Regions from separate parts of the Homo sapiens genome. Here regions 1, 3 and 4 are each linked to region 2. Evidence: fine-mapped expression QTL. A gene starts in region 2. Each other region holds a variant in brackets. All regions are shown on one strand. Distances are between the middles of the regions. Region 1 overlaps CDH13 (cadherin 13). Region 2 holds the start of CDH13-AS2 (CDH13 antisense RNA 2). Region 3 overlaps CDH13 (cadherin 13). Region 4 overlaps CDH13 (cadherin 13).

Region 1 (5,151 bases), 34 kb after region 2:
GGAGTGTGGTACTGTGTGCACCCGTTGGCAAGCGACTTAATGAGATTGCTTTAAACATGGCTTGATTTTAATTTGTAGAACAAAATTGAATCCATGATTGATCCACAAGGCCCTGTGAAGTGTTTTGTAAAAATATACACTAAGTCTTTATGGTCAGAGTTTCTTTGATGCCGGGAGTTTCTGCTGACCTATATTCAGTGTTATAAGTAATTGGATTTTTCTTTTTAACCAGCAGTTGCAGACTGGCATTTGGTCTGCTAATTTATCGTGTTTCTGGGATGTCCAGTGTTCTAAGAATTCTTATTTTTTATCCAAATGGCTTCAAGTGGAGCACATATTTCCAAGATGACCACTGGTCCTTTCCAGCCTACTGCCTCTGCCCTGGCTTCTAGCAGCATAAGACTTGGGCCTTCCTCATATGTTCCCTCCTAGCTAACCTGACTTTAGCCAGTATAGATTTTTCTTCATTTCTCCATTCCTGAAGTATGGCTCCCTCCTTTCTCTTAAGCATGTCTTTCAGTCTTATACTACTTCTTTTCTTAATATTGAGTCTATTTGTATACATGGATAGTTTAATAGGCATCTCATTTAAGGTTCTCAAATAAGTATACAAGCTAAAAAGTCACCCCCCATCCTTCTCCACCCACAGAGTGTACATTGTGTTGGGTGATATCATGGGGAAAATACCAGGAGCAAACCTTAGCTGCAGGAATCTCTTTTCTCTTGTGTCATTGACTTCTTATTAGAAAGACATGTGTTTTGGTTACAAGGTTGGCAATTCCATCATGCAGCAGTGTGAATGGGATGTAAGGAGATATTTTTAATTTTACCTCCTAATACAACCATATCAAATCCCATTTCCAAATGAGGAAATGAGGACTTGTAGGCACAGATATCTGGAAACAAAGCCTATTTAAAATTGCTTAGTAGGAATGACAGTTTTCCTTCCGACCCATTTTCAGTGACAGCCTGTCACTCTTGACTGAGAGATCTCCAACCTACAAATGTTGGTGGGTTATTTATTTTGCAAGCAGCCCTCCTGCTGCCATACAATGGCAAGTCTTGAGGGGGAAAGGGTTATCATTTTCTTTCCTTTGGATCTGAGTTACTGGCTCTGTTGCTCTAGAGGACTATGCCTTTTAGACCATGGCGGTGCTTTTGCTTCATGGACTTGGCACCCTGCCACGGTCTTCCTGGCATTCAACCTCTGCTTGCCCTTGTTTCTGGCTTTGTCGTTCCCACTCAGCACTGACAACTTGTAAGAGCCTCAGCACATTATATGACCACGATAGGACCACATGGATTCCACTGCTGGATTTCAAACTCCAATAATTAACCTTGTATTTCTTCAAGTTGAGCAGTGATAACTGCCTATGAGATGGCCAAGTTGGCCACCTGGCCTGCCTGGGTTACTCTTGGTCTGGTTGGCTCATGACTTACACTTAGCCTTTTGTGATCTTGGTGTAGGGAGGGCAGAACTGTGCGTTTTCTAAGAGAAGCAGGGTAATATGATTAATAAAAGGTGAAGATTTACGTAGAGGAATCGAGCACCTGTTATCATACAGTCTAGGAAAAGTCCAAGCAAACCAGGCAGGCTGTTGCTTTGAGCACATGGGGGTCTACATTCTAGTTTTTTCTCATTTTCTAGAAAAGAAAACTAGACACTCAGATTAAGGAAAATGTCCAAGGTGCTCTAACATTAGTGTGTCAGAGGCATTGAAATCAGAGCAACTCCATCTTGAATAGGTGCTGGGTAAAATGAGGCAGAGATCTACTGGGCTGCCTTCCCAGGTGGTTAAGGCATTCTAAGTCACAGGATGAGATAGGAGGTCAGCATAAGATACAGGACATAAAGACCTTTCTGATAAAACAGGTTGCAGTACAGAAGCTGGCCAAAACCCACCAAAATCAACATGGTGACAAGGGTGACCTCTCGTGGTCCTCACTACTGCACTCCCACCAGCACCATGACAGTTTACAAATGCCATGGCAACATCAGGAGGTTACTCTCTATGATCTAAAAAGGGGAGGCATGAATAATCCACCCCTTGTTTAGCATATCATCAATAAATAACCTCAAAAATGGGCAACCAGCAGCCTTTGGGGCTGCTCTGTCTACGGGGAGTAGCCATTCTTTTATTCCTTTACATTCCTAATATACTTGCTTTCACTTAATGGACTCGCACTGAATTCTTTCTTGCGTGAGATCTAAGAACTCTCTCTTGGAGTCTGGATCGGGACCTCTTTCCAGTCACAAGCATGTCACCTGTTTAAGAGCTGTGGCCCCCTGGCAGGGCATCCCCATCCCTGGAGCTTTCTGGCTATTCTATAAAGTGAATGGAATGCCTGGCAATTGTAAAGCACTTCCCCGTCCATAAGAGCCAGAGCCACAGAGCTCGAAGTTTGAGTATTTTGGTGCTTGTGGTTGGTACTAAACACTGGTAGAAAGGGTAAAAAACAGTTTCCTGTGCTTTTCTTACCTACATGGCCAACAGTATATTGCTTTGTGTGGGAAGCCTGTAGAACTGAACCAGGACTCCTCCAAGAAACATGAGCCACGCGTGGTTCTCCTGGCATTGCTTTGACGCTGTGGGTGTGGATGCAATGAGAAACAGGGTCAGGTTTTGAAACCATCCCCACAGGGTTGACGGGAATTGCATGCCAGGTTCTGGGTACAAATACAGTTATAATTCAGCGTTAATCAGGCTGCACCCTGGCCCAGTTCCTTGTTGCAGTAGGTCATGTACCGTAACCAAGTACCCTGATTTTTCTGAGGTGGTTTAATTACTTTTTTCTCTTCTCTTCTCCTTTCCCCTTTCAGCCTGCTTCCTACCTAGCCCTTTTTGAAATGCAAAATAACCTCTCACCTCCCCCTCACCACACATTCCCTACAAGGCAAGGTCATCTACGTGCCCCAGTGATCTCTTCTCCAGAATTGACAGTCAATTTGCAGATCAAAGCACATCTCCACGGAACTCCCACTTCTGGGGTGGCCTCAGGAGGACATGGTGAAAACACGCCCACTTGGCCACTTTTACAACTTATTTCTGCCCAGGAAGGCACCAACTCAACTGTATGCCAACTCAGCTGTTTGGTAGATAAGACACCAGGCTAGCAGGGGGACTTCCTGCCCTTGCTC[A/T]CTTCCCCTTTAACCTTATAAACATGTCTGCTTTTTGCTCCAAAGATGAAGCAGCACACTTAAAGCAGGACACTTTGTGTCTTTCCAAGCTAGCTTCAAAAATAAATTCACTTTTCTTGTACCAGGCCTGGATCTTGTTAATTGGACTCTGCTGCAGTGAGTGGCTAACCAGTTCCTCAGTTACAGTAGCACTAGATCCTGACATTTGCTTCCCCACCGTTCCCCTAGATAGGATCTCTGACATTAAGGCCAGAAGACTGTTTAAGAATTGATTTGCATCCCCATTGTTCCTATAGACACTTAAGATGTTTTTCAGACACACCTCCCCAGAATTCCAGCCACCAGTTGGAAGTCTCCCACAGGGGAACAGGATCAGCATGAGAACACAGCTGCTTCCTCTCCCCTTCCTATGACTTCACCCTGTACTCTTGATCTCCACACTTCTGCCCACTCCAAAGCCCTCAAAAACCCAAGCCTCAACTTCCTTGGGGAAATGGCTTTGAGGTTCCCTCCCATCTTCTCGTTCTGTGACCCTGTGGTCAAGGTGTTTGAACCAGAGCAACTCCATCTTGAATAGGAGCTGGGTAAAATGAGGATGAGACCTACTGGGCTGCATTCCCAGACGGTTAAGGCATTCTAAGTCACAGGATGAGATAGGAGGTCAGCACAAGATATAGGTTATAAAGACCTTGCTGATAAAACAGGTTGCAATAAAGAAGACGGCTAAAACCCACCAAGACCAAGATGGCGATGAGAGTGACCTCTGGTCATCCTCATTGCTACACTCCAACCAGCACCATGACAGTTTACAAATGCCATGGCAACATCAGGAAGTTACCCTATATGGTCTAAAAAGGGGAGACATGAATAATTCACCCTTTGTTTAGCATATCATCAAGAAAAAACTATAAACATGGGCAACCAGCAGCCCTTGGGGCTGCTCGATGTCGTAGCCATTCTTTTATTCCTTTACTTTCCTAATAAACTTGCTTTCACTTTACTCTGTGGACTAGCCCTGAATTCTTTCTTGCATGAGATCCAAGAACCCTCTCTTGGGGTCTGGATCATGACCCCTTTCCATTAACACTATGATTAAACCTGTTTCTCTGCTGCAACCTGGTGTCATGGCATATTGATTTGCTGTGTGCATTGGTTAACAAACCTATTGCGATTACAATTTGTGTGTGTGTTTTTTTGTCTATTTAAATTTCAGGGATTTTATTTCATGAAAAACCTTGACCAAACAGGATTTCCACTTAGCTAAAAAACACTGAGATTTTTTTTTCACAGGTTCTGTTGTTCAGTAGCTATATATATAAGTGCTTTATATCTTGTCATTAATAGACATAACTAAAAACATAGTGTGATCCTAATTTAAAAATCTACATATGATTAGAGAAAAATTAGAAAGACATATATAAAAATGTAAGTGGTGATTATTTCCCTAGGTAATTAACATTAAAATAATACATTTATCTATTTTTAATTTTCTTTACAATAACCATGAACATGTTAAACTCAGAATTATGCAGGGATTAAAAATATTTTTTTCTAATTCTACTTTACTTTTTTCTTACTCTTTATTTTTGCGACTATTAATTTTTAGTACATTTACAGAGTTGTGCGACCATCACCACTACCTACTTTTAGAACATTTCATCACCCCCAAAAATAAACCTTGGGCCAATTTGTACTAACTCTTCATGCCCACTCCCAGCCCCTGGCAACTACTGATCAATTTTCTGTCTCTACAGATTCGCCTATTTTGAAGATTTAATATAAATGGAGTCATATAGTAGGTAGTTTTTTGGGTCTGGATTCTTTCACTTAGCATAATGTTTTTGAGGGTTGTACATGTTGCAGTGTGTATTAATACTTCATTCTTTTTTATGGCTGAATAATAATCCATTGTATGGATAGACCATGTTGTTTATCTACTCACCAGCTGATGGACATTGGAGTTGTTTCCACTTTTTGTCTATTACGAATAATGTTTCTGTATTAGTCTATCC
Region 2 (5,139 bases):
CGAGTCTGTAAAGTGAAAGCAAGTTTAAGAAAATGAAGGAATAAAAGAATGGTTACTCCATAGACAGAGCCCTGAGGGCTGCTGGTTGCTCATTTTTATAGTTATTTCTTGATTATATGCTAAACCAGGGGTGGGTGATTCATGCCTCCCCTTTTTAGACTATATAGCGTAACTTCTTGACGTTGCCATGGCATTTGTAAACTGTCATAGCGGTAATGGGAGTGTAGCAATGAAGACAAGCAGGGTTCACTCTTATTGCCATCTTGGTTTTGGTGGGTTTTGGCCGGCTTCTTTACCGCAAGCTGTTTTATCAGCAAGGTCTTTATGACCTGTACCTTGTGCTGACCTCCTATCCCATCCTGTGACTTAGAATCCTTTAACTGTCTGGGAATGCAGCCCAGTAGTTCTCAGCCTCAGTTTACCCAGCTCCTATTCGAGATGGAGTTGCTCTTGTTCAAACGCCTCTGCCAGACCCACCAGTGTCTCTAACAAACCCGGAATCCAGTTGGCCTTGAGGCATGAGACTTCAACTCCCTTTACCACCCCTTCCCCCTCACTCACACCTTTGCCCCTCACCCTTCACACCTCATCCTTTCCTATAGAGAGATCTTCCTTTCTGTGTAAGTATACACAACTTTTTTGTAATTGGCTGTTGTCAACTGGTATTTGGCTAGTGCTTTACCCGACTACTTGAAATAAAAATATCTCAGTGTTTTAAGTTAATCCTCAGAAGACCCTGTGATATAATTATCATAATTTTACATTTTTGAGAAAACAGATGCAGAGGCGTTAAGAAACTGGAACAAGGTCATCAAATTAAGGAAGTAAGAGACGCAGGACTTCCTGACTCTGCATCTTCTCCTTTTTTCTCACCATTCTAGAATTCTCTGAGTTTTTTGAGCTTAGAGCAGAGTTTCTCAAGAGCTGCAATACTGGCATTTGAGTCAAGTCGTTCTTTATTGTTGGTGGTGGAGGGGGCACCCTGTATATTGTAGGACGTTGGGCAGCATCTCTGACTTCTACCTACTAGATGCCAGTATCTCAGTTTTCTTAAAAGACTTTTTTTTTTTTTTTTTTTTTTTTGAGATGGAGTCTTGCTGTGTTGCCTAGGCTGGAGTGCAGTGGCACCATGTCGACTCACTGCAACCTCCGCCTCCCCGGTTCAAGCGATTCTCCTGCCTCAGCCTCCTGAGTAGCTGGGATTACAGGTGAGCACCACCATGCCCAGCTAATCGTAAAAGACTTTTCATAAAACTTCAGAACTCCTTAAAAACTAGTGAATAGCCAAGGTGAAGAAAGCCCTCAGGCTTCTGACTTTAGACCCCAATCCCTGGGACTCCCACACTCAGCAAAGAAAGCTGGGTGCCTGCACCCTGGATCTCTGAGCAAACCTGTCTTATGGCTGTGGGCAACTCAGGAACATGAATTAGCACGAGAATCTGGAGTTTTTCTTTCCTTTTCTGGTAAGACACTTGTGGTTTTTTTTTTTCAAATTCCAATTGGAAATTTGCTTTACATGAACAACAAACAAACTTGATACTCTTTTAGTGGAGGCATTATTTGTTCCTTTATTTTTTGCACTTAAACAGACAGGCAGTATGCTTTCTCTGTGTGGAGACCAAGGTCTGTTAAAGGGCTGCTTTTCACGGAAGCTTCACTAATTTATACTCATGGCTGACATACTCACCTTGTGGGGCTGACACACCGAACCTAACTGAATATTGTCCCATTAACAAAACTAATGTATTACGTGTAAGGCACCAGTAATTAACCTTTAAACTTCGGTTTTGAACAACTCTCATTTTTAACCTTTATTTAAGTGTCATAGTTGTCTTACCTCCTCTTGGCATTTTTTTTTTAAAGCTCTTCCTAGATTAATTGCATGTTGTAACTCCCTTTTTCCATTCAAGACAGTTTTGTTTTACGTGCGCTTATTATGGTACTTTTATAATTGCTTTTTGGTTCTCTGGGCCATTCTTTTGACATGCCTCCTTTCTTGGATCTGTACTATGATAGGTGGCTGGGCATGGTGGCTCATGCCTGTAATCCCAGCACTTTGGGAGGCTGAGGCAGGCAGATCACTTGAGACCAGGAGTTCAAGACCAGCCTCGCCAGTGTGGCGAAACCCCATCTCTACTAAAAATACAAAAATTAGCTGGGCTAGGTGGCGTGCACCTGTAATCCCAACTATTCAGGAGGCTGAGCCAGGAGAATCGCTTGACCTGGGGAGGCAGAGGTTGCAGTGAGCCGAGATCTATCCCCTGCACTCCATCCTGGGCAACAGATTGTGACTCTGTCTCAAAAAACAGTAATAATAAAATACACTATGGAAGGTGTTGGTCTGTCCATGTGACCACATGCAATGAGGTGCTTTGTGCGTTTGCCTTGTGTGAGCAGCGATGGAATGATCCTAGCGGGGCCTTGGAGGAACTGGAATGTTCTTTGCCTAGTTGCACCTGCGTCAGCTCTGTAGGCCCAGCCCTGGGGCCCAGCAGCTGCTCCCCTGGTTTGCTTTCCTCCCAGGTTGCCTCATGCTGCTGCTGAGCAACCTTCACCTGATGGGCGGTGCCACAGCAGGGTCAGTGAAGGGTGCCCCTTCCTTCTAGTGACCTGGGCTGCCCTAGCCCTGGCCCTTCAGTAGCCATTCCAAACCTTTCTGGTCCCCCCAAATCCAGGACTTTATCCCCTTCACCCTCAGAGGATGACCTTATATTCTATTTTGTGGAGAAAATGGAGACTGTCCATCAAAACCCCTTAACTCCCGTCCTGCGTGCATTCCTAAGTTCCTACATTAACCCCCGTGTCACTAGCTAACGATCCTTTCTGTCTCAGGAAGCAGTGTTCTTCCTCGCGCACAGGGCTCTGCGTTTGTCTAAGGCAGAGAGACCTGGGCCCTGATCCCATTCTCTTTCCTCAACTCCAGGAACTTGCTTCCTGCATTCATTTTCTTTTTTCCAATGATTCCTCCTTCTCAGCACATAAAAGTGACCAACCCCTCGCCCCACCCCCGCTGCACAAAAAACAAATAGAAAATGGAAACCAGTCCAACCAGGGTGAACCTCCACTGACTGTGTGCCCTTGTTGAGCTACTGCTCATAGGGGAGCTTCTAGAAAGGAAGGACTTATTGTCTTAGTTACTTGATCCACTTCCTTACCTCCTGTTCATGCAACTTTGCTTGTTTTGCTTCTACTAAAATGGTTCTAGGTGCTGTGTGGACAGGTGATACAAAAGCCTGACTCACACGGTTGACATTCATTCATTCCATTTTCATTTCTCTTTGAGTGATCCTGACAAGCAGAGGGTCTCAGGTGGATATTACTGTGTCTTTGAGACCTCTCTAATCCTTATCTATCTCTCATTTTAATACAGAGAGTTTCATACGCAGACCTTAAGTAGACATAGTATCCAGCTAAAAGGTAATTATGCTTTTTTGTTTGTTTTCATTGTATTTATTTTTACTGCTGCTTTATTGTATTCCAAGTGATACTGGTTTTTCATTCATGTTGTTATAATGTAGAGTTTTCTTTTTCTTTTTTCTTTTTTTTTTTTGAGACAGGGTCTCACTCTGTCACCCAGGCTGGAGTGCAGTGGCGCAGTCATGGCTCCCTGTAACCTCAACCTCTCAGACTCCAGCAATCCTCCTGCGACAGGTATGCACCATTACGCTTGTCTAATCTTTGTATTTTTTGTAGAGATGGAGTTTCGCCATGTTGTCTAGGCTGGTCTTGAACTCTTGGGCTCAAACCATCTACCTACCTGCCTTGGCCTCTCCAAATGCTGGGTTGATAGGTATGAGCTACCATGCCCGGCCAATGTACCAGCTTCTTTTAAAATAAATTCAAGCCAAAATTATAAATGTAAAATTACGTAGTTTAAAACTAGAGTTGTAGCTGATGGTACAGGTGGCATTTCAGTGTGGCAGAGTTAGTGAAGGTGCTGAGAGATGAGACAGGGAGACGGCTAAATAGGGACGATATTCCCTTGGGATTAAAGTTTAGAAAATCCTGCCTTGAAAGAAGGCAGGGAGCCAAAGGGTGAAGACATTGCGTGTGCTGTGAAACAACATGGTTACAAAATTTGATAAGGGGAAGCACAGGAACTATGACTGCATCAGGGTAACATCGACTTGCTTCTTCTCCGTGGGGATAAACTCAGAGAGGATGCTGAGGGATGTCAGCAGGTGCTGGGTCCCTGTTTTTCACAGAACAATCCTTCAGGTGCTAGTAAGCCTCAGGAGGAGGATGCTGTCCCGCTGGCACGAGGAGGGGCTGGGGCACGACAGTCATCATCCAAGCAAAGGTAGGGCTTAGTTACAGACACAGAACGGCAGATTTAATCTAGAAACACCACCATCCTGGTACCAGTCTTCTTGGCTTGGATTCCCATGTAAAAATCCAGCGTTGCTACCCTCTCAAGGGTGTGCCCTGGTTAGAATGAGTGGATATTTTGCCTCGCATTACCAAAGCACAAGGAGGTCTCTTTGAGGACTTGTTTGTAAAAAAATCAAACAACAACAAACAAACAAACAAAAACCTAGAAAATTGCTTTTCTCGGGGAGAATGGTGTGATCGGTGGTTGTTCTGACAATTTCACGTTCTCTTGCTTTCGGATTGAAGCATTGGTTTCTGTTTCTTATGTTCTTTTGAGGCAAATTTCCAAATTAGCGTCTCTATGACTGGCTGCCAAGGCATCCGTTTGCTATTTATTTACCCAAACTAGCAGTTTCCTGGAGACAGACTGCCTAGGGGGAAGGAAAGTTTTCTTATAGACCAGATTTGCAAGTTTGGGTTTCCTCTGCTTCATCCCCCATCATTGACAACTTGCTTAGTCCTCAGCACTTTCATGCATTGTTTGTGATGACACAGTTTGTTCCTGGAGATAAATGGGGTGGTGCTGCCTTAGCATATAGCAAGAAAAGTGCCAGGGTGGGGCCATGCATATCACTTAGTAGTCGTGAGACCTACTGTGAGATAGTTTTAACTGTGTGAACCTCAGTTTCTTCATCTATAGAATGGTGCTAATGTCTATTACATAAATTATGTATATGATATATAATTATGTATTACACATAAATTACAAATATAACTACAAGGTAATATGTATATACACATCTATATAGATACGTAAAGTATCCGGCC
Region 3 (5,151 bases), 78 kb after region 2:
TGAGGTCATGAGGATGGAGCTCTGATCTGATAGGATGAGGATCCTTATAAAAGGAGACCCTGTATGCTCCCTAATCCCCACCCTCCAGGTACATGCCCCAAGGAAATGAGGCTACATGAGGACACAGCAAGAAGGTGGCTGTCTGCAAGCCAGAAAGAGAGCCCTCCCCAGAGACTGAACCAGCTAGAACCATGATCTTGGACTTCCAGCCTCCAGAACTGTGAGTAATACATGTCTGTATTCAAGCTGCCCAGTCTGTGGTATTTGGTTATGGCAGCCTGAGCTAAGACAATACTATCTAAATATTAGGTTGAACCACACAGTTGCCATTTCTCTCGTCAAAACCCGTCACATCAGCAATTTCACATGGCCCAACCTAATATATAAACATATATACAATAAAAACGGCATGTCGTAATTGTGTGCTTTCCTTCCTGCTGGGCACAGTGCTTTGAAGGCCGAGAGACACGCTTATTTATCTTTGCTTTCTCTTCTCTCCAGGCTTCCATTGGCACTTGGTAAACACTGGTGACTGAGTGGGTAAATTACAAAGATGAGCATTTTGAATTCCTCTTCCAACAGAAGCTTTAATGTAGTTCTTATCAAGCCTAATTCACTCACTAAAAAGAATTGCATTGCACATATTGGCAGGAGCTATTGAACTGTTGTTTGTCAAGACCTTTTCTCCTCGTTTCATAGGGACTCAAACTAAATGTATCTTCACAACACACACACACACACACACGCACACACATACACATACACACATAGCCAGTGCCATTCAACTGTTAGCGAATCACACCGCTTACGGCTCACAGGCTTGTGGGGTCAGCCCGTGAGAACAGGCACCTTCTCTCCAGGGCCCAGTGTGCACATCAAAGACTTAAACCCTGTGGTCGAGGATAGACTCTGAGACAGAGACGTGGTGTGTGGCTCTGAAGCCTGCCCGCGGTGCTGTTCCCCCTTTCCAGGCAGCGTGCTCACTGCTGTCCACATCTGAGTATGTGTTGCCGCATAACAGACTCCTCAGAGGAGCTGTGGCTCTTTGTACAGTCACAGTTTTCAAAAGCTTTTGCCTCACAAAAGAAAAAGCAAAGCGCCTTCCCTCAGGCAGTTTTCAATTCTTCCCTCCAAATCCATCAGTCAAACTTGATACTTAAACCCTTGAATCCCAAAAGCTCCTTTGAGAAGCGAGCCCATTAGCAGCGGGCGGGAATGGCTGCCCTCCCCGCCAACGCCCCTGTTCACTCCCTGGGCTGCCCTGCTGTGACTGGTGAGCAAAGTTGTCAGCCAGTTCCGTCAAGGGATCTGTCATTCCCAAACCTGTTTGGTCCTTAGTCCTCCTGTCCTGAACACACAGGCCTTTCCTGGAGAGCTAGCAAGCCTAAGACTTTTTTGGCCTTTGAATGCAATTTTATTTTTTAGGGCTTCTAATGTTGATGTACTAACATTCTCGGCTTATAAAATCTCCAATGTTGATATTTCATTTAGTAAAACTGATATTTTTCTTTCTCAATGCGGGAAGGTTGGAAGGTTCTCCTTTGAGAACCCACTGCCGCAGTGGTGATCTCTGGAACAGGTGGATAGGTGTGCACTAAATAAAGCAAGCAGAAGAAGATGTGCTGGGAGAATCTCGGTGATGGGGCAAAGGGTGCTTGCTATAAAATTCTTCCAACGTTTCCACATGTTTGAAAACTGTTCTAAAGTTGAGAAAATACAATAAAATGATGAATGTGTCTGTTCTCTAAACACTCAGCAGCGTCCCTTCCCACGTAGATGTCTTTCTGCTACAAAACCATTAAGGATATCACATGTTAGCTGATTTCATTCCGATGAAATGTCCGTACTAGGCAAACCCACAGAGACAGGAAGCTGGTTAGTGGTCACTAGAGCAGTGGGGAGAAGGAAGCACGTTAACGGTTAAGGGGGATGGGGCTTCTCTTTAGGGTGCTGAAAATGTTCTAAAATCGAGGGCGGTGATGGTTGCACAACTCTGTGACTACACTAAAAACCATTG[A/C]ATTGTATATTTTAAATGGGTGAATTGTACGGTATGTGAATTATATCTCATAAATCAATACAGCTGTTATACATGGGAAAGATAACTTCAAGGAAGGGAGGTATCCATGATTTCCAGGGCTGCTAAAACAGAACAAAACAAGGCACAAACCAAACACTCCTCCCTCGATAGTCTTCAGAATACTCTTGACTGACAGAACGCCAAAAAAGGACGGTGATTTTTTTTTTTTTTTGAGACAGAGTCTTGCTCTGTCGCCCCAGGCTGGAGCGCAGTGGCGCCATCTCCGCTCACTACAAGCTCCGCCTCCCGGGTTCACGCCATTCCCCTGCCTCAGCCTCGCGAGTAGCTGGGACTACAGGGGCCCGCCTCCACGCTCGGCTAATTTTTTTTTGTATTTTTAGTAGAGACGGGGTTTCACCGTGTTAGCCAGGATGGTCTTGATCTCCTCACCTCGTGATCTGCCCGCCTCGGCCTCCCAAAGGGCCGGGATTACAGGCGTGAGCCACCGTGCCCAGCCAACAGTGATGTTTTGATTTTTCTTCCATTTTTTGCCCGTTTAGCAAATACTCAACAAACAAAAGACGTGCAGAGTCTCCCCTGCAGGGCCTGCCTTCTTAGTGGCAATGGCTGCAGCAGAAGGGGCCAAGATAACGATTTGTCTGGAGAATGAACAAATAAATAAATAAATGAATGAATGAATGGACCCTATCTAGGGTCCTTGTTTCTCCAAAACCCGAACAGACACCCCGGTCTTGTCACAAACTTGGCCTGTGACCTGCAGCACATGACTGTCACTCTTGGGCCTCAGTTTCCCCATCTAAAAAACAGAGGTCATGTGAAATGATGGTCTCTAAGGTGCCTTCTAACTGATACATTATGACAATCTTTCCAAAAGCAATTGTTATTCAATGGCTGAGCAAAAAAGTTATAAAATTATCCCTTGTGGGAAGATTCAGACCAAGGTCCAGTTTTCTCTACATGAAAATGCAACACTTTACAATGTTGTGTAAGTGCAGAAAGTGAAAAGACAATCATTAAAAAGCTGAGAAAAATAAAGTCAGGAAAGAATGCTACATAAATCGCTCAGTCTGACTTCAAAGGGAAATTTTTTTCCAAAGTAAGATCATGAGAATTGATTTATGTCCTCAGAGCCAATGCAAATGCAGGATTTGTACAATATCCATTTATCAGTTCCAAAGGAGCTGATTTACGGCCCACCTCTTCTAGTTTGTATTCTGTCCAGCTCAGAAAGTTAACTGACAACACAGAAAGAAATATCCTCTGTCTCATTGCAGATGACGGGTTATAAATGAGCACAACTTGATTCTCTGTTCTGGAAAATTAGTGTTTTGAAACTCTCATTAGAAATTAGTCATTAAAGCTGTTCCCAAACTTGCCTGCTTGGCCCATCACTTTGTTGCTGTTTTTGGTTGTTTAACGTTCTGACAATGTCAGCCAGAGAAACGACTGCCTTTGTCTTAGGTTATTCTAGGTCGACTTCCGTGTCTGGATGTAACCAAATCACCAGCCAGACCGTGACCAGGACACATCATACCGCTTGCCCCCGGCAGAGATCCTGTGCCCACATGTGATAAGGTGGGTGATGCAGACCTGGTGCTCAGTATGTCAGTCACAAACTGTGTAGGCCTGGAGGAGGTGGAGACAGAGGTACCACTTGACCCTCCTTCCCAGATTAGTGGAGAAGACGGAACTCATGTTTCCCAGACTGACGCCTAAGGATAGATTAGATCCACAGGATACACAAGACCCGTTGCAGTCCTGCCTGTGTGTTGAGTGAACGGATCTAGCTCTCTTGGCCACCATGCCTTTGTTTATCCCATTTCCTCTGCCTGAACATCCTTGCCCTGGTCTACCTGCAAGTCTGAGCCCAGCTGTCCCTTCCTTCCTTGACTTTGACTGATGTGCCTTTCTCTCTGCTGCTGTTATATTGTAGTGTTTTCACCTCAAATGTCACTTTCATCATAGCTTTTATACTAAAAGGGTCTGTTTATTCATCTCTTTCTTTCTCTAGACTGAGTGAAACTGGATGACAGAGGCCATATGTGTCGTGGTGACTGTATATCCCCACTATCTGTGAATCAGGGCTTAATTTGCATTGATTGGCCTAATGAGGACACCAATAAGGGAGTCCCAGGGGTAGGATGATCCTGCAGCTGGAAGAAAGGCTGGGAAGCCATATAGAGTTGTACCCAAAGGCCATCTCAAGGGAGCAGCTCCTGGCTGCAGGTTACAATATAGCCCCTGCTCACCCAGCTGGTTGTGTCCCTGCTGACACTTCATCAATCATCTTGCTCCTGACGCTGACACTGCTCAGGCTGGGAAGGGAGGGGAAAGTAAGGATACAGGTGTCTAGGAGAGAGCTTAGGAGATAGGCTCCTTCAGTGAGATGGTAGGAGACAAGCCCCAACATAGTCACAGGGGGCTTCAAGTAAGACGCTTCCTCCAATCTGAGCTGGTTTGAGCTTGTACAACTTCATCCATCCATGTATCCATCCATTCATGCATTCATCATTCATCCATGCATTCATCCACCGACTCATGCATTTATCACTCACCCATGCATTCCACACTCATCCATGCATTCATCATCCACCCATGCATTCATCATCCACCCATGCATTCCTCACTCACCTATGCATTCATCACTCACCCATGCATTCATCACCCACCCATGCATTCATCCCCCACCCATGCATTCATCACTCAGCCATGCATTCCACACTCATCCATTCATTCATCACTCACCCATGCATTCATCACCTACCCATGCATTAATCACCCACCCATGCATTCATCATCCACCCATGCATTCCACATTCATCCATGCATTCATCACCCACCCATGCATTCATCACCCACCCATGCATTTATCACTCACCCATGTATTCATCACCCACCCATGCATTCATCACCCACCCATGCATTCATCACTCACCCATACATTCATCACCCACCCATGCTTTCCACACTCACCCATGCATTCATCACTCACCCACGCATTCACCACTCACCCATGCGTTCATCACCCACCCATGCATTCATCATCCATCCATGCATTCCACATTCATCCATGCATTCATCACCCACCCAGGCATTCATCACTCATCCATGTG
Region 4 (5,130 bases), 60 kb after region 2:
TTTTAAAATGTTACTTGTTTTGAGGTTGCTCTTTTGAGATTTAAACAATATAGATGCATAGAGTAAGAAATAATAGTCTTATCTATCAGGGAGACTCAACTGGGCATGACTCAGCTTTCTTTGAATTGGGTGGCTTGGATAATGTGCCACTTGCAGACCTAAGCCAGAAAGATGCTGTTGGCACTTTGCTGCCATTTCCTACCCATCTTTGAAGTACATCCCCATGAAGTGACATGGGAATCTTTACACTGGTAAAGATGCATGAAGTTGATTTTCTCTGCCTTGTATGGCCAGATTTGGGTCTAAGGATGTTTAAAACCTGATTTAACCAACAGGATTGAAAATCTCCAACTGAAGGGCTTGGAGCAAGTTAACCCCGAGTCTTCACGGGAAAAAGATATCTACCTCCTAATCCTGGAACTTGGGAATGTTACTTCATAGAGCAAAGACTTTGCAGAGCTGAGTTAAGGTCTTTGAGATGAGATTATTTTGAGTTATCTTGGGGTTGTTTGTGGTTTGCTAAATGCAATCAGAAGTGTCCTCAGGGGGAGGCAGAGGAGATTTGAGACACAGAAAAGGAGAAGACCACACGACCGTGGAGGCAGAGATTGGAGTGATGTGGCCACAAACCAAGGAATGCTGCAGCCACCAGAAGTGGGGAGTGGCAGGAAGGACCCTCCCCTAGACCTCTAGATGGAACGTGGCCCTGCCAACGTCTTGGTTTTGACTCAGTTAGACTGATTTTGGACTTCTGTCCTCCAGAACTGTGGGAGAATAAATTTCTAGCCTCCATGTTTGCAATACTTTGTTACCGTGGCATTACTAATTTATTATAGTAGGTATAATATCCCCACTTACAGATGAGGACTCTGAGGCACAAACCAACAGCTACGCAAATCGTAGAGTCAGGACGTGGGCCCAGGTGGTCTGACCTTGGAGCTGCGACCCTGAACCCACACTCAAAACTGCTGCTTCCCAGCTAACTTAGTGACTCAGGGTGGGTGGTCAGCAGGTATGTTTCACCTGAAGGATCTTACTTCGAAGAAGATACGAATTCTGAGAAAAGGTGGCCTCTGAGGATAGAGTTAAGTTGAATCGAAGTGTGGTGGGTGGGATTATTCAGATGTAGGTGGAAGCCAGAGGGATGCCTCCTGTGTGGCCAAGGAGAAGAAGAACTGCCCTTGTCCATGACTTAAAGGTCATCTTGGGGGCTGCAATGGGATTGTTACCTGGGGGAGGCTGTGGTCACTGAAGAAGGGATGGTCAACTTGGGTTGTTGAGAAGGGGAGCCAGGGAATAAGAAATTGCTGGCTGACAAAGGGAATGGGCATCTATGCAGTCACCACAAGCCTCATGGCGACCCAGGACAGACAGCAATTCACCTACCACCCTCGCCTGGCCACCATCCAGAGCCCCTCCGAGTGTTCCCAGCCTCTCCTGGAGTCTCAGAACCAATCATCTGGAGGTCTTTGGGCTTCCAGTCAGCATTGACAGATGCTCTGATACAGCGCTGTTGTAAATTTAATTCACACAGAGGCGGTCTGGGTTGGTATCAATCCTTTTTGTGTTGGGGTCATGTGAACTGACCTGAGAATCAAATCAAGTTTTTGTCCTGCAAAGTGGATGTACCAGACCCCCAAACTGCAGAAGGACGCCAGGAGAGGCTCCTGCTGATGCTTCCTGGAAGGCGTCTGGCCTGTTCTTTCCTAAAACAGCCTCGGGGTGCAGCCTCCCTTTAATATTAATAGTAACACAGCTGCAGCAGCATCGAGCCTTACATTGCGCCGGCTGGACACCGCTCCAGGAGCTTCCAGCATCTATGCCTTCAGCCCTCACACCAGCCCTGGGAGGTTGATAATATTATTCCTCCCCTTTTACAGATGAGGAACTGAGAGGCCTAGAG[A/T]TATGTGAACTTTGCCAAGATCATTGGCTAATATGGGGCATGGTTGGGATTCGCAGGCTGGATCTCTGGTGCCAAGGCCTGCTGTCACCCTCTGCTGCTTCCCCCCAGCCGTTCACATTGCCAGCATCACATGAGTGTTAGAGTCATGGACTCTGGAGAGGAAAGGACCTGGGTTCTAACAGTGAGCCTGGCAAGCTACTTCTCTGTGTTTCTACTTCCTCCTCTGTGACTCGGGGACAGTCCCAGTGGTGTTCTGGGGTAGCTGTGAGGGCAAACTGAAGCTGACACAAAGGGCTTGGTCTTGTGCGGGGCGCCCTCGGGGGAGCCGTTGCAGAGTCAGGCTATGGGTGTGTTAATGGCTCACTGGGGTCATGGCCCTGTGTGTCCTCCCTGATGTGACTCACACGGTCCCCTGGAATGTTTCAGAAACATCCGACTCAGCAGAGCCTAGGGGAACAATGTTTTGATGCTGCAACTGTGACAGGGGACAGATGGGGAGAACGGATGAGGCGAACGCAGGGCTTCCACATGCCCTTGCTGCTGCAATGATCCTTTCACTATTTTGTGAAAACAGAAGCGATGAATTACTCATGAGAATGAACTGCTTTAAAAACACCAGGCTTTCATTTAAAGAGTCATTTATGCTTCCACCTGGCAAATTTTTACTGTTTCAAGACCCCACTCATACGTCTCCTCTCGTTCATCCAGTGTGACTTTCCCAGTAGAATTAATCACCTCACTAGGTCTGTGCGAGGCACATGCACTGGTAAAAATGCCTTTGGGAGCCTAACACGGGCCCTGACGGCTCTGCCATCTCCACTAAACTCTAAGCTCCTTGGTGTCAGGATAGGTAAAAGTTGGTCAATAGACACACAGAATGCTTCCTTGGGCCCAGCTTGGTGCTAAACCCTTTAAGAGCATCACTACATTTATTTTTGTGACTCATGACAACCTGATGAAGTGGGTATCATCCTTGTTTTAAGGTTGAGGTAACCAAGAATCAGAGAGGCTTAGCAACTTGTCAAAAGCGGCCCAGTTAATAAGAGACAGAGCTGGAATGTAGCACCAGCATGCTGGATTCCAGGGGCTGGGCTTCTCGGTACACAGTGTTTTTCATGCCTAAGGCTGGGGTGGTGTGCTCTGCACCCCCAGGGCCGAGTAGAGTGCCTGGACGCAGACGGTGCCCGGTAAAGGTTTATTACATCTTTTCTCCTTCTGTTGGAACAATCATGGGGATGGAAAAAGCAAAGAAAAAAAAAAAAAAAAAAAGAAAAAAGAAAAAAGGCAACTCATCAGGTAGCAAGTTTCCTGTTGATCCAGGAGTGATTGGTAGTGGTTCAACATATTTGAAATAATGAAAGTTTTAAATGAACCGCATTCTATTGCCTGATTACTCAACTCAGTTTAGAAGATAAATAAAAACTGAATTAAATAAATTTGGCTTTCATGTTTGGCGTACAAGCAATGCTCTTTGATGCTCCCTCTGTCATTCCTTTTTTGTCCCATGATGCCATAATTTTGTTGTACAATTAGCATGTTTGCTTGTTTCTTGTCAAAGAAGCAGTTGTATTCAATAAAATGCTTAGAGACATGAACTCGGAGGCAGTCCTCAGAAACAATACTCAGCACGGTTAGGCCTGCCTGCGCCACATTTCCAGGGAAAGCCAGGGTTTGGGTGATTTTACAGGACAATGTCTCACTCTTTTTCCTCCTTAAAAAAATAATCAAGTATCCAGAGCTGTGCTATTTAACTGAGTTTTCACAGGACTCTTTCTGCTCCCCTCTGTTTGCTTATTTTATTTTATTTTTTGAGACGGAGTCTTGCTCTGTCGCCCAGGCTGGAGTGCAGTGGCAGCGATCTCAGCCCACTGCAACCTCTGCCTCCTGGGTTCAAATAATTCTCCTGCCTCAGCCTCCCAAATATCTGGAATTATAGGCACCTGCCACCATGCCTGGCTAAATTTTCTATTTTTAGTAGAGCGGGGTTTCACCAAGTTGGCCAGGCTGGTCTCGAACTCCTGACCTCAAGCGATCCACCTGCTTTGGCCTCCCAAAGTGCTGGGATTACAGGCATGAGCCACCGCACCTGGCCAGTTTGCTTATTTTGTTTGGTGCCTCCTCCCATGGGAGACCTCAAGGAGGTATGCCTGCCCCACAGATGCCCTGGAAGGACAGCTTGCTGCTCCTACTCAGAAACACACCTGCAGACAGAGGAGGACAGACGGACACTCATTTGCTGAGCACCCATGTAACATGAACTAAGAGCTGGGTGGAGACAATGAACGGTGGAGCCATCGTTCCCGATGTGGAGGGAGAACAGCTCAAGACCACGGAACAGCCTGCTCTCCCGCTTCCTGGCTTCCGTGCGCTTTTGTCCAATCAGGCTTTTTGACCAATCGGCCAGGCGCGCTATGTAAATTTCTGACATTTTCAAAGCTGTCTTTTTAATAAACCTTTCAGTGTAAAAATACTAGCGTGCAAGATGTTTTCAATGCTTCTAGGCCTGAAAAATGCATACGCCTTATTAAATTGGAATTTCCGGGCAATTTATCTGTAATGTGAACTTTGCTTGTTACAGGAAAAAAAAAATCAAATTAAAAGCTGAGCTCATTTCAGCCTGTAATGTAGCTTCACAGAAGCTGCTCTGAGTGCTTGCCAAGCCTCGGCCTCTTCTGGGTGTCGGTGTTGGGAGACGCAAGGCAAACTGATTAACAGAATTCGAGTCGCAGGCAGCGCAGTGGGGGTTACTGGGGCCTGCGCCACCCTGGAAGGCGGGCTCACTCTCAGCAGGGCCCCCTCAGAGCAGGGAAGAAAGCTTCCAGGCAAGTGGCCAGGGCCAGCTGTTGACCTGGAAGGACTTCCAGAGCCAAGGGCTGCCAGCCTCTGCCCTCAGGGGCTCAAGTATTGGTGGGAAGGTGAAAGAGATCAAAGGTTTGACAAGTCCCTTCTGCAGGCTTCTTGGGGTCACTCGCTTTCTGTGAGGTAGGGCAGCAGTCCCCAACCTCTTTGGCACCATGGACTGGTTTCGTGGAAGACAATTTTTCCATGAACAGGTGGGGGATGGCTTGGAGATGAAACTGTTCCTCCTCAGTTCAGGCATTAGATTCTCATAAGGAGTGTGCCGCCTAGATCCCTTGTGTGTGCAGTTCACAATAGGATTTGTGCTCCAATAACAATCTGATGTTGTGGCCCAGGGGTTGGGGCCGTCCGTGGCCCAGGGGTTGGGG

The links. PIP is the estimated chance that this variant, and not a neighbour inherited with it, causes the effect.
Region 1: its variant is fine-mapped to the expression of CDH13-AS2 in whole blood (TOPMed, PIP above 0.99).
Region 3: its variant is fine-mapped to the expression of CDH13-AS2 in whole blood (TOPMed, PIP above 0.99).
Region 4: its variant is fine-mapped to the expression of CDH13-AS2 in whole blood (INTERVAL, PIP 0.93).

The regions. Positions count from the first base shown.
Region 1 is chr16:83,767,544-83,772,694 of GRCh38, reverse strand. All of the region lies in intron 11 of CDH13 (cadherin 13), which reads right to left. All of the region lies in intron 1 of CEDORA (CDH13 antisense oligodendrocyte and neuron associated lncRNA), which reads left to right. Among named protein-coding and RNA genes, the nearest start is that of CEDORA, 2.8 kb to the left of the region's middle. RefSeq lists an enhancer at 3,083-3,222. The variant A/T (reference allele first, on the strand shown) is at 3,140.
Region 2 is chr16:83,801,947-83,807,085 of GRCh38, reverse strand. It overlaps CDH13-AS2 (CDH13 antisense RNA 2), which reads left to right and starts at 3,110. Exons shown (of 3, transcript NR_120308.1): 1 at 3,110-3,417; 2 at 3,558-3,651. RefSeq lists a silencer at 4,694-4,853.
Region 3 is chr16:83,723,937-83,729,087 of GRCh38, reverse strand. The region is part of intron 10 of CDH13 (cadherin 13); the gene reads right to left. It overlaps CEDORA (CDH13 antisense oligodendrocyte and neuron associated lncRNA), which reads left to right. Exons shown (of 4, transcript NR_188499.1): 2 at 89-220; 3 at 3,500-3,613. Among named protein-coding and RNA genes, the nearest start is that of CEDORA, 46 kb to the left of the region's middle. RefSeq lists an enhancer at 650-1,150. The variant A/C (reference allele first, on the strand shown) is at 2,018.
Region 4 is chr16:83,741,791-83,746,920 of GRCh38, reverse strand. All of the region lies in intron 10 of CDH13 (cadherin 13), which reads right to left. The region is part of intron 1 of CEDORA (CDH13 antisense oligodendrocyte and neuron associated lncRNA); the gene reads left to right. Among named protein-coding and RNA genes, the nearest start is that of CEDORA, 29 kb to the left of the region's middle. The variant A/T (reference allele first, on the strand shown) is at 1,904.